Linked DNA regions of Homo sapiens. The protein of the gene in region 2 purifies or fractionates together with the protein of the main gene of each other region. This does not show direct contact. Each region holds a gene or a part of one and is shown on either strand. Other genes may lie near its edges.

Evidence for each region. The genes of interacting proteins can lie anywhere in the genome.
Region 1: the proteins of YTHDC2 (region 2) and RNF10 purify together in Homo sapiens (co-immunoprecipitation; one large-scale study listed by IntAct). This does not show direct contact.
Region 3: the proteins of YTHDC2 (region 2) and LIN28B purify together in Homo sapiens (co-immunoprecipitation; one large-scale study listed by IntAct). This does not show direct contact.
Region 4: the proteins of YTHDC2 (region 2) and SRFBP1 purify together in Homo sapiens (co-immunoprecipitation; one large-scale study listed by IntAct). This does not show direct contact.

Annotation. Positions count from the first base shown.
Region 1 is NC_000012.12:120,572,356-120,575,221, reverse strand, and holds part of RNF10 (E3 ubiquitin-protein ligase RNF10), read right to left. Parts: intron 1-2,866. UniProt on the Homo sapiens protein: E3 ubiquitin-protein ligase that catalyzes monoubiquitination of 40S ribosomal proteins RPS2/us5 and RPS3/us3 in response to ribosome stalling.
Region 2 is NC_000005.10:113,519,834-113,524,056, forward strand, and holds part of YTHDC2 (3'-5' RNA helicase YTHDC2), read left to right. Parts: intron 1-4,223. UniProt on the Homo sapiens protein: 3'-5' RNA helicase that plays a key role in the male and female germline by promoting transition from mitotic to meiotic divisions in stem cells.
Region 3 is NC_000006.12:105,023,107-105,026,606, reverse strand, and holds part of LIN28B (protein lin-28 homolog B), read right to left. Parts: intron 310-3,500; coding exon 125-309; intron 1-124. UniProt on the Homo sapiens protein: Suppressor of microRNA (miRNA) biogenesis, including that of let-7 and possibly of miR107, miR-143 and miR-200c.
Region 4 is NC_000005.10:122,017,475-122,020,974, reverse strand, and holds part of SRFBP1 (serum response factor-binding protein 1), read right to left. Parts: intron 1,716-3,500; coding exon 1,634-1,715; intron 888-1,633; coding exon 173-887; intron 1-172. UniProt on the Homo sapiens protein: May be involved in regulating transcriptional activation of cardiac genes during the aging process. May play a role in biosynthesis and/or processing of SLC2A4 in adipose cells.

The DNA.
Region 1 (2,866 bases), on a different chromosome or scaffold from region 2:
TCTTGTTGCCCAGGCTGGCGTGCAATGGCACAATATTGGCTCACTGTGACCTGTGCCTCCCAGGTTCAAGCAATTCTGTCTCAGCCTCCCAAGTAGCTGGGATTACAGGCACCCGCCTGGCTAATTTTTGGATTTTTTTTTTTTTAGTAGAGACGGGGTTTCACCATGTTGGCCAGGCTGGTCCTGAACTCTTGACCTCAGTTAATCCCTCACCTTGGCCTCCCAAAGTGCTGGGATTATAGGCGTGAGCCACTGTGCCCGGCCTAGTACCCTCCAGTTTTTTTTGTTTTGTTCGAGATGGAGTTTCGCTCTTGTTGCCCAGGCTGGAGTGCAATGGCGCAAATCTTGGCTTACCGCAACCTCTGCCTCCCAGCTTCAAGTGATTCTCCTGCCTCATCCTCCTGAGTAGCTGGGATTATAGGCATGCACCACCACGCCCGGCTAATTTTTGTATTTTTAGTAAAGACGGGGTTTCTCCATGTTGGTCAGGCTGGTCTCGAACTCCTGACCTCAGGTGATCTGCCCGCCTTGGCCTCCCAAAGTGCTGGGATTACAGGCATGAGACACCGTGCCCAGCCAAGTACCCTCCAGTTTTAAACCACATGGCTACTAAACTTCAGTTACCTAAAGCCATGAAAACTAACTAAACTCTCTCCTGACACCGCTTCAACAGCCCCTCACTACCTTTTAGTCTGCTTTTCCAATAGCTCCTTCATCATTAACTTTCAGATCCAACCACAGGCCAGTAAAATTCCTGCAAGGACAATAAAATCAGAACAATCCTCATGCCCCTGAGGAATTTTCATTCCACTTGGCCAAGGCCAGCTTTGTAACTGCTGAAGGCCACTATGAGCCCCAACTGCAAATATGCCACTTAAAAGGCAGAGAACATTTTATTCCTGGAAAAATATCAAGAGACAAACCCCATGGGGTTCAAGCAGGGATGCCTTGTCCTTAAATCATATATTCCAAAGTGAGGAATGCCTATTACTCAAGATGAGTTTGTGTTGGCAGATGCCGATTTCATTAAATAACCTTTCTTCATTATGTTCCACTTTGGTGAACTTCTCCCTTTGTCTCTAGGAGTTTGGGTCTCCTACGGTTTAGACATTTGACCCTCCCAAGCCTCATGTTAAAATCTGATCCCCAATGCTGGAAGTGGGGACCTAATGGGAGATGTATGGGTCATGGGGGTGGACCCCTCATGAACAGATTAATGCCCTCCCTGGGGGATGGGAGACCTATTCTCGCATTCATTCCTGAAAGAGCTGATGAGTGATGTCTGCCACTGGATCCCAGTGGGAATGGCAGTACATGTGTGTTTGACAACCCTGGGCACTCCAGCCTCTGCCCTTACCACAGAAGGGATCTGAAGTAGCTGGTGTGTCCAGTTTCACAAAGGCTGCTTCAATAGCTTGGCTGAAGGCTATTTTGAAACTGGGCACAGGAACACGGTTGTTTAAAACGGCCTGGCACCTCCTCCCCTCCTTGCTTCCTCTTTAGCCATGTGATCTCTTCACAAGCAGGGACCCCTTCACTTCGTGTACCATGAGTGGAAGCAGCCTGAGGCACTCACCAGATGCCCAGTCCTCCAGCCAGCAGAGTCATGAGCCAAATAAACTTTTTTTTTTTTTTTGATAAATGACTCGGCGTCGGGTAATCTTTTATACCCACACAAATGGACTGAGACAGTATCCAAATAGTTTGACATGTGAATTGTTTTACTCTTAAAAGGTAATCAAAATGTCACCTATGTCTTATTCTTACCAAAATGTTTAAATGTAACCTGAATCCATTCATGAGAAATCAAACAAGTCCAAACTGTAGGATATTCTATAAAACAACTGGCCATGGAAGGGAAAAAAAAGGGGATATGGGCAAAGGAACGGTTATAGATCAAAGGAGACTAAAGAGACTTGACAACTAAATGCAGGGAGTAACAGGATTCTGCCCTGAGTTGAAAATGAAGGACGCTGAGACAAATGTGGAGATATAAATATGCACCATATTAGATATTACTGTGGCAGTGGAATTTCTCTAATGTGATCACTGTGGTTCTATAGGCGAATATCCCACTTTCTTTGGCATGTATCTCCTAAGTACTTAGCGGTAAAGTATCATTCAGGATATCTGCAACTTCTTTTCAACACAGAAAAAAGAGAAAGCAAATATATAACAGCAAAATAGTAACAATTAGTGAATCTAGGTCAAAAGTTTAAGTGTTCATAATACTATTCTTTCAACTCTGTATTTCAAAATAAAGTTCAAAGGAAAAAAGCAATAGCAATAAAGCCTAGTTTAAAAAAAAAAAAAAAAAAAAAGGCCAGGCGCAGTGGTTCATGTCTGTAATCCCAGCACTTTGGGAGGCTGAGGCAGGTGGATCGCCTGAGGTCAAGAGTTCTAGACCAGCCTGGCCAACATGGTAAAACCCTGTCTCTACTAAAAATACAAAAATTAGCCGGGCATGGTGGTAGGCGCCTGTAACCCAACCCCAGCTACCCGGGAGGCTGAGGCAGGAGAATTGCTTGAACCCGGGAGGCGGTGGTTGCAGTGAGCCGAGATCACGCCATTGCACTCCAGCCTTGGGGACAGGAGCAAGACTTCAACTCAAAACAAAACAAAACAAAACAAAACAAGTATTTGGCATAACTCCTGGGAGCCACTTGTTAATCATCTCTAAGTCCAGCAGTTAATTTTCAGGATCCCCCTCTCTTCTCACCTCACCTCCACAATTATTTCATGTTCCTTGACTTCGGAACCCTCCTTACCAAAGCTCAATTCTTGCTTATTTCTCAGTACAAACTGCTGTAATTACATAAGAAAGATCCGTATCAACTGCTCTAAAGAACTGTCAATGGCCGGGCAT
Region 2 (4,223 bases):
TGCCATTCAGAGGTAATTTAAATCAAAGAGTCAATACACATAATTTCTTTTCTTTTTAATTTTATTTTACTTTAAGTTCTGGGATACATGTGCTGAATGTGCAGGTTTGTTACATAGGTATACATGTGCCCTGGTGGTTTGCTGCACCTATCAACTCATCAGCTAGGTTTTAAGCCCTGCATGCATTAGATATTAGTCCTAATGCTCTTCCTTTCCTTTCCCCCTAATCCCTGACAGGCCCCTGTGTGTGATGTTCCCCCGCTATGTCCATGTGTTCTCATTTTTCAACTGCCAGTTATGAGTGAGAACATGTAGTGTTTGGTTTTCTGTTCCTGTGTTAGTTTGCTGAGGATGATGGTTTCCAGCTTCATCGATGTCCCCGCAAAGGACATGAACTTACTCTTTTTTTATGGCTGCACAATAAACATAATTTTATTTTTACTTCAGTTTTTCCTGGAGAATCAAAGAGAGGGACACCTCCTGTTTTTTATGAAACTAGTATAACTTCGCTACCTAACTCAGATAAAGAAGATATTAGAAATGAAAATTATGGGTTTATCTTACTTATGATCATAGATGTAATATGCTAAATAAAATAAAAAATTAGGTCACATTTAAACTGGGTTTTCCCAAGAATAAAGGATTATTGAAAATAAAAGAATCTCTTTTTTTTTTTTTTCTTTAAATGAGAAGGAGTCAGCATTCTCATATTTGGATGAGGGCCTTTGGTTTGGTGCTGATTCATCTCTGGCCTGGTATTTACCACAAGGGAAAGGATAGACCTTGACCTGAAAGTGGATGACTCCCATGGCCTTAGTGCACTTTTTGTTCACAGAAGTGAGCAACAAGGACCAATGGTTCTTTCTTATACATTAAATGCAGCAGGATGTATGACAGAGCATGCCTCCATTTGTGTACTAGTGTGGATATAGTTTATTTTTCAACTTTTGAGTTCAGAGGTACATGTGCAGGTTTGTTACATAGGTAAGCATGAGTCAAGGGGGTTTGTTGTACAGATTATTTCATCACCCAGGATTAATCCTAGTACCCATTATTTTTCTTAATCCTCTCCCTCCTCCCATCCTTTACCCTCTGATAGACCCCAGTGCCTGTTGTTCACCTCTATGTGTCCATGTGTTTTCATCATTTAGCTCCTACTTACAAATGTGAGCATGCAGTATTTGGATTTCTGTTCTTGGGTTAGTTTGCTAAGGATAATGGCCTTCAGCTCCATCTGTGTTCCTGCAAAGGACATGGTCTCATTCTTTTGTATGGCTGCATAGTATTCCATGGTGTATATGTAGTACCACATTTTATTTATCCAGTCTACCATGGATCATAACAAGTTTTATAAGGCAGAGTCTATTTTAACACCTGGCACCTATATAACAGATGAGGCAATTAAAGCCTAGAGATGTTAAGTAATTTTCCTGAGATCACACAGCTAGCAAGTGGCAGAGCCAGGATTTGAACACAGTTAATACTTAACTAATTATTTTTTGATGTTCACATCAAGTTCATAGCAGTGTAGTAGGTGCTCTGAGGAGTTAGAACAGAAATATTGGATAGATCTCATCTTCAATTTAGCTTATAGTTCATTAAGACCAGAAAAATAGGCTGGGCGCAGTGGCTCATGCTGGTAATCCCAGCACTTTGGGAGGCCGAGGTGGGTGGATCACCTGAGGTCAGGAGTTCCAGACCAGCCTGACTAATATGGTGAAACCCCATCTCTCCTAAAAATACAAAAATTAGCCATGCATGGTGGCGGGCGGCTGTAGTCCCAGCTACTGGGGAGACTGAGACAGGAGAACTGCTTGAACCCAGGAGGCGGAGGTTGCAGTGAGCCGAGATCGTGCCACTGCACTCCAGCCTGGGTAGCAAAGCAAGACTCTGTCTCAAAAAAAAAAAAAGAAAAAAAACCCAGAAAAATAAATTTACTGTAGGCATAGTGACCATGCCTTGAAAGCAAAAAGCAAGACTCTGTCTCAAAAAAAAAAAAAAAAAGAAAAACCCAGAAAAATAAATTTACTATAGGCATAGTGACCATACCTTGAAAGCAGCTGTGCTCAGTTTGGCGACAACATGAAGTGAACTGGTTGGTTTATTAGTTTTTAGGTAATCATAAAAAAGTACAAATTAGTATGATGCAAACTTTACTACATTTCCAATTCTGTATTACAGTATTGGGGAGAAAGTGGTTTGGAGCTAGATCTTTGCATCTGTCTGCCTAATGGAAATATAAATTAAGGGAATATAAAATTAAGTACTTATTAGGCATCAAATGAATGCCTGTTTTTTTTGTTTTTTGTTTTTTTTTTTTTTGGTGGTGGTTGTTGTTTGTTTTTAAGAGACTCCTGGTGTCTGTGAGCTTTTTAAGCAGTCATTTGAGATTTGGGCTCTTCAGCTGATCTTTTAAACTGTTCTTAGATTTACAAGTAGGGAATATTGAAGCATATGTTTGTATTTGATTTAAATGTTTAGTAACATCCTTTTAAATTAGTAAATTGATTAATGTTAACATTGTGTCAAATTTGATTACTTATAGCATCATTTTTCTTTCAAAGGAAGAAGCCATTGAAATGCCAAAATGCATCGGTTACTTTTATTTTTCGAAAGTTAGGTGTTATGATGCTCTCAACTGTAATTTTATTACATTTACTTTTATATTTCAAAATTGCATATGGGGTTTACCTTTTATTTAAAAAACTCTTGTGAATTTCACTTAGCTAGCATCTTTTCCACATGTGCAGCTAGTTTTTAGTTAATTTTGCTTTGTATAAAAGATTCCTGTGTTTATCATCAAACCATAGTTTCGGTTATCTTGGAATGAAAGCATAATAAGGAGTTCTCAATTTGTTAGTTTACGTAGTATGACAAATTTCTACTGTATTTAATGTTTCCATCCTCACAACAATGAGGTGAATATTTTACCAAAAATTTCATTAATCCTTTTATGATATATCAGTGTCACTGTGGTGCTGACTGTGGTAGGAATAATCAGTAAAAGCACAAGTAGACTCCTTTACTAAAACATAAAAATGATCAAGTTGATATTATCTTTCCATTCTACCATATGTGCTCAAACTGAATTCAGTAAATTTTAAATGGTAATGGCTAAGTAGTCCCACCTGCTTATTATGAGGTTTTTTTTAATACCTAAATGCTATATTAGGTAACCTATGTTAGGAAGGTTTCAATCTAACTTATTATTTCAGTTGTGAGCTTGTTGAGAAAGGGTATATTTTACTCCATTTTGTATTCCTGGCTTCTACCACAGTGCCTGGCATAAAGTCAGTGTTTAGTTAATAGATGATAAATGATTGAGTGAATGAATAAAATACAATTAAAGGTGAAATATAGCAAAACCTTTCTGAGATGATTTTTAAGAAAATTAAAGCATCTTTGAGTTCTTAAAAATATGAAGTTTTTAAAATTAACAATTGTACAGTGTCAGAGAAGTAAAATGATTTGCCGTTGATCATGTAACTGCTTGAAAGTTTATTACTAGCTGAATACTAGCCTCCTACCATTTGCTCTGGTGCTCAGTTCAGCTCACTTCCTGCCTTTTGTAGTTAAAATTTTATGAAATGAACATCACAGAAGGGGAATGAATTATTGAGTCTATAATGACTGTCCTTTAGTTTCAGAAAGGTCCGTGGGAAAAGAACCTATTATAGAGAACATTTATGGAATTCAATAATTTGAATTTATCATGGAAATAAGTAAAACTTCTAGATCAGGTTAAATTTTATTTCATCTTTATAGCATCATTTTAAGTACCACCAAGTACTTTTTAAGGAGTAAATAACAACCTAGAAAGCTTAAAATTCATTGAAATATTCAATAAGGAGTTTCCAGAAATCAAAAACCTTGATAAATTGGAAGCCTCACTTAGAAAACTTATATGCTAAAACTGTATAGGTTAATCCCCAGTTTGATATCACTCTTATGGTGAAGATACTGTTGATAAAATTTACATCTAATGAAAATTAGAAAAATTATAAAATTTGCTTTGTAAATTATAAATTTTTCATTGTATTTATGGCTCTGTTGATTATTTCTATAATAGTGACATTAACAAATGGCAAAACATTTTATGAAATATTTTGGGTAACTTAAAATTTAAGAAATAGTATTGTTTCTGACTATAATAATAGTTTTCATTTATTTAGAGTCTACTCTGCAACAGATACTGCACTTTGCATGTATTATCTTAATCATAT
Region 3 (3,500 bases), on a different chromosome or scaffold from region 2:
ATATATTCTACATGATGGTGGTTTCCTTTGGCTAGACAATATGAAATGCAGTAAGATGAAAACATTTTCAGAAATCCTTTCCAAACACAATAAACTGATAAATTAACAAAGTAAAAATGATTACCTATCTCCCTTTGGTTTTCTTTTCTGTAGTGTCTTCCCTTTGGGTCTTCTTTCACTTCCTAAACAGGGGCTCCCACCAGGTCCTGTTACCCGTATTGACTCAAGGCCTTTGGAAGATTTTTTAAATGTGAATTCCACTGGTTCTCCTTCTTTTAGGCTTCTAAATCCTTCCATGAATAGTTTGCTCTGTAAAGAGCAGAAGAGGGTGGGGGAGAAAAAGAGAGATTAAAATTATCATTGCTTTATAAATTATCTCTATAATTTTAAAAAAGAAAGATACTCTGTCATGCATTACAAAAGTATAAAGTCTTAAGTTCAGTGAAACATATACCATTTTAAAGTTTCTTTTTGCAATACTGGCAGTGGGAGAAAAAAATTTTTAAGGCAATTTGGCAATACTTAGAAAAATTAAAATGTGCATATTCTTTGTCCCAGCAATTCCACAATTAATAATTCTACTACAGACATACACAAAGGCTCAAAAAGATACCACAGCACTGATTGGTAAAAAATAATTACATCTATCTGAACATCTATCAATGGGAAACTGATTAAATAAATTATTAATATAATAGCACCATATAACATTATTAAGCCATTAAGAGAAGTTTTATTAGTTCTACATGTTCTAATGTAGAAAGATAAGCATGTCATATTGTTGAGTTAAAAAAAAAAAGAGTTAAAGAACTGTGTCTACCATAATGCTATCTATGTAAAATTTTAATTTTGTTTATTTATTTTTGATATGGGACTCACTATGTTGCCCAAGCTGGTCTTGAACTTCTGGGATTTTCTAGCCTCAGCCTTCTGAGTAGCTGAGATAACAGGCACATGCAGAGTCCAGCTAAAGTTTTTAAAAGATATATGTTTATTATATAGAGATGTGGTCTGAAACAACAGACACTAAAGAGTCGTTTTCTCCAGTCCCGTTCTAGAAAGGTAGCAAAGTTTTCTGGTATATACATTACTGCGTCGTTTGAGCTTTTTATAATTTGAAAGGAAATCAGATTTCATATTTGAAAGATAGCTGATTTTTTGTAAAAATAACAATGTTCACCAATTACAAAATTGTTGATTTTGGTTTCAAATATTATTTGGCTCTTTCAATCCTCTTTTCATCAAAGTCAATGTGCCAGTTCAAAATATACTAAAAATAATTCAATCAGTAGTTTTATTTATTTTTTCAAACCCCTCTGTGTACATTTTACAGATCTAATTTAGAATATCATGTAGTTTTTAAAGACTCTCCTGAATTGGTGGGGCAACAGAAATAAAACATGATGGTAGAAGTCCTTAGTTCAAGTCCAGTTCTTTAAATAAACTGCTATATTGCTTTGAATAAGCCATTTGCTGTCGTTTCTGTTCATTTGTAAATTCAAAAGATTTGAGTTCTGAGTAACAACAAGACCACGAGAAAAAGGTTTTGTGGTCAAGTAAGTTTGTAAAACACTGTATGTTGTTTCTCTGTGAGAGACTCATATTAGCATATTAAAGTCTCAGGAATGTTCTCACCTCCCCAACTCCCACAAAACTAAAAATCTTTTTTAACTCAGCAGTTTCCTGACCTAATTGATCCCAGAGCCCCTTCTTTAAGTACAGATGACGAACATACTTAGAGAAATATTGGACCAGAAAATCTTCAATTCTCCAAGTCCATGACTCTAAAGGCAGCTAAATAATTACATGTAGCCAAATTATTACATAGAATAAATAAAAACAAAACTTCAAAAATTCATTGCAAAAGGAGACCATTCATTGTGAAAGCAAGACAGCCCATGAAAACAGGGTTATTAACCTGCTTCTAGTGCAGGTCACCTGGCATAGTGAAATCTTTCATGTGGAAGTCTGCAATTTGGCAGCACCTTTTCTGCTCTCTGATGAAATGTTGGGGGAAAAAATCACAACTGCCTACATTCTTTAAAATAATAAAGTATTATTATTAAAGCTATTTTAACATTTCTAAAGCATCTTCTCATTTTTTCCTAAGCTTTCTCTTCACTAATTATAAATAGTTATTTTGCTTTCATTTCCTTTCTCCCTCTCCACTCAAGAAGGTACAGATTATTTCTCTTTTACAGATGAAATGGAGCATAGTTCAGCTACTGAAATTATGAGAACAAAGAAACAGCATTTTTTATTAGAGCTATCATATGTTCATATGTTTTGTTTTGGCAACAAAAACTCTATCACTGGGCTAAGCGCGGTAGCTCACACCTGTAATCCCAGCACTTTGGGAGGCCAAGGCGGGCAGATCACCTGAGGTCAGGAGTTCAAGACCAGCCTGGCCAACGTGGCAAAACCCCGTCTCTACTAAAAAAATACAAAAAATTAGCCAGGTGTGGTGGCGCTCGCCTGTAATCCCAGCTACTTGGGAGGCTGAGGCAGAAGAATCAGTTGAACCTGGGAGGCGGAGGTTGCAGTGAGCGGAGATCGAGATCGTGTCACTGCACTCCAGCCTGGGCAATGGAGTGGAAACCCTGTCTCAAAAAAAAACAACCAAACAAACAAACAAAACTCTATCACTTAACTCCTCATAGCTCTTAAGTGCACTTTTGTAGGAGTTGGTGCATAGTTCCTAGTGAACTCAATTAAGCTGGTATACTTTCACTTAATTTAATTTTCCATTATTATGATTTTTGATAGGTATCTTATAAGTGAACTGCTTTTCCAAATCTAAAGTAAAATTCCAGCTCTTACAAACTAATAAATTCTAGCTGTTGTTCATGATATTCTGAAAGAATACTTTAAAAAGTTCTATCATATATGTCCCCCTCCCCAAATTAGTCCATAAGGCAATTTAGTTTCATAATACTTGGCAAAAAAATATATATATATTATATATTTTATATATATAAAATATATAATATATATTATATATTTTATATATATAATATATATAATATATATTATATATATTATATATATATATAGGTTATATATTATATATATTATATAATATAATTATATATATTATATAATATAATTATATATATTATATATAATATAATTATATATATTATATATAATATAATTATATATATTATATATAATATAATTATATATATTATATATAATATAATTATATATATTATATATAATATAATTATATATATTATATATAATATAATTATATATATTATATATAATATAATTATATATATTATATATAATATAATTATATATAAATATATATATTATTTATATATATAATAATAAATAATAATTATATATAAATAATATATAATATAATATATATTATATATATATATATATCCATAAGAAACTATAATGGCTTTGCAAGAAAAAGACAAGAATTCACACAGAATACTCTGTCTTTGCTATTAGACCAAAATAGCTGCTACATAGGTGGAAAAGAT
Region 4 (3,500 bases), 8.5 Mb from region 2:
CATATGTGTATCTGTACCTAATACCCCACTACAACCTTGGAGAGGGCCATGTCTAAAAACAGGATGGGTTGTACAAACTAGAATTATAGTCTCTTCATGTATGGACAAGTAGACATTTATAGCTTTTTAAAAAAGAACTAATGATTATTTCAGAATAGAAAAAGAATCTTACCTTCTAGAGCTTTTAGATCCAGATAAAGAGTGGAAAAACACTGATTCTAACTTTCTGGTTTCTGTACTTGGCTTGATTTTGTCATTTCTTGTATCCCCATGAGTTTCACCTGTATCTTCTTTAAGAAACACTTTTTCTAGTGGTTTTTGTTCCTTAACTGAAGAATGACAACTACTTTCCTTCTTTCGTGTCCGTCTGACTTTCCCAATGAAGAAGTCGTCACCGCTATCACTATCTTCAGACATGGAAGACTGCTTGTAAAACCTTTCTTCTGTGCTATCATCAAAATATTCCTTCTCCTCTTCACAAAATTCTTCTCCGCCATCACTGTTACCAGAGAGTGAGCTATCAGATCCTTTGTTTTTTTTGGTTTGACTTAGAGTTTTCAGTTTTGGGTCAGCAGGTGTCTTCTGGGACTCAAGGGAAACTACAGAATCCTTTTCTGAAGGCTTTGATGGAGAATTTGCAATAGTCACTGCTTTAGGTCCATGTTCCATCTTTGCTATTTTTTCCTTTGAATTATGTATTGGTTTCTTCGCCAATATTTTGGTTTCTTTGACTTTTTGCTCACTGATGACAGTTGCTTCACGCTGTAAATTACTTCCATTATCATTTGAATACAAAGTATTCTCAGAATGATTGTCCTCTGAAGCATTCTTTGATGACTCAACTTCAGCAACATTTTGTCTTGCTTCTTTAAAGGCTTGTACAGCAGCTGCAAGAGAAACAGTGCATCACTCATTTTAGCACTGAAACATATAAAACATGACTGTTTTAGGACAGTATTTTAAAAAATTATTTGAAAAGATTTAAGAGGGCAGTTGGAATTGATATTAAATACATATACTCGGTCTGAATTCACAAAGAAATCTTTCGACTTCTTAAAAACCAAACATAAGATATGCTCAGACGTATTCATTTTAAATTGTGAAAATGAAAAGAAAATGTTTTCTTCATGTCTTGGAGTTATGAAGAACAGTAAAAACATCACAGAATACAAATAAAAGGGAATGGCAACTTTAATTTATATAATAATAATGCATTATTATAAACTGTGCTTTCAGACATAAAATTCAGTATCATGTGACAAAAAAATTTCATTTTATAGATATATTTTATAATAAACATATATAAAATTATGTTCCTAAGTGGCGAAACCAAAACTAATGAGTTATGTCAATATTTTAAAAAAACTATTCAACTTTATCTTGTATATATTATATATAAAAAGATATATATTACGTATTATACGTTCACATATTAGAATTTACTAAACAATACAGATTTGGTTTTTCTTCAGAGATCACACTTTCTGTATTTTCAGACACCTTCCACACTGGTAAATATTTGAAAGAAACTTATATTTATAATAGAACCTCAAGAGTTAAAATAAGTGAATAGCCATTATCCAAAGTCTACAAATACATTAAGTACATGGCTTAAAAGTCATTTAATTCATACCTTTTAGCACATCTATCTTTTTCTTCAGAAGAGGATGTACTGCTAGTCTGGCAATTGCTCTTTCAGTTGCAGTAGAATCTGGCTGCAAATTTAAAAATATAATAAACGTATGGGAATGAAATAAAAATGACACTATTGAAAGTGAATAAAATAAAATCTATCATAGTCTTTAAAATTAGAGTTGGAGAATAGAACTAGTTAATATTCTCCTTAGATAAGATATCTGTATAATCAATCCATGCTAAAGACAAAGATCATCCTGACAAAAATATTACTGCCTTTGAACAACTAAAATTATCACTTAATCATTAATAAATATTCTTTGGATACGATACTTAATATTCTCAGAATTGTGATAAGCACCATGTGTAACATCAAAAAAAGAACATAGTTTTTACTATCAAAGAGCTTGAACAATCTAATTAAGAAGACTAAATTAATATCAAAGAATCAAATAACATATTAGTGCTAAACTGGGTGAGACTACTGTAATACTTGAAGTTCCATTTAACAGAGACCTAGAAATTATCTAACGCTCTATATTTCTATTTTAAATGTCTACTATCACTGACACGTTCTCAGGGCCTAGACTGAATGGGAACATTATATACAGTATTCAATATATTTATAAATTTGGAAAAATCATAATGCCGGCTAATGACTTGAAATGCCGTATGAAGGCTGACAACATCTAAATTTCGACCTCCAGCTCCAACCTGAGCTCTAAGCTGATACATCAAACCACCTAACCTGACATCTATTTGACATTGTCAAAACAGAATTCTTTGATTTTTCCTCACAAATCTGCTTCTCCTGTAGCTTTTCCATCTTATTGTATGTAATTTCCATTGTTCTGGTTGCTCAGGCCTAAAACTCTAAGGATTCTTTCCCACTATTTGTCTTTCCCTCAAAACTCACAATACACCCTGTGGTTCCAAATGTAAAATATATCCAGAACCAGTCGCTTCTCACCATTTCTATTCTTACTACCTTTGACTAAATCACCAACACCTCTCACCTGGACCAACATAATTAAACTTATGCCTGGTCACTCTCCTTTGCAACTTGCTCTCTCAACAGTCAATTTTCCACACAACAGCCACGGTGATTTTTAAAAATGTAATCAAATCATGCTATTTCCATATCTGTTCTTCTTTAAGCTTTATTGCTTTCTGATGCTTAGCCCATACCATTGCAATCTCTTCTTTACCTGGAATACTCTACTCCCAAATATATACACGGCTGATCATCTCACTGTATTCAGGTCTCTGCTTAAATGTCATCTCAACTAGCACAACACTTCCCATCACTATTTACTTCACATCACTTACCACTGCATGGCAGTGTAGATGTTTTCATATCTGCAAAGCAGAGACTTTGTTTGCCTCATTGCTGTAGATTCAGTGCCTAGAATAGTGACTGGTAATAATAGTAGGCACCCAATACACATTTAATAAAGCAAGTGAATAAATTTCACTAGTGTGTGAAAGTAAAACAACCAGTTTCAAATGTCTTTATCCTAAATTTACCCTTCATTGTGAACAGTCAAATATAAGACATTTCCAACCCAGTATTATAAATGTACGAATACCAAAATAAAAACAAGATGATGGCAGTATGCAAGCTATTCTGTTTGTAGGATTTATGTGAGTAATGTCACTCAAAGAATAATCTATTTAAATTACACCTGGTGCAAATCCTGTGCCAGGACCATCTGCTATTTAATTACCTTGTGTACTAGGTTGAATCGCGTCCCCTCAAAATTCACATCCACCTGGAAACTCAGAATGTGAACTTATTTGGAAACAAAGTCTTTGCAGATTAAATTATGTGGAATCACAGTGGATCAGGGTGGTCTTAAGCCCAG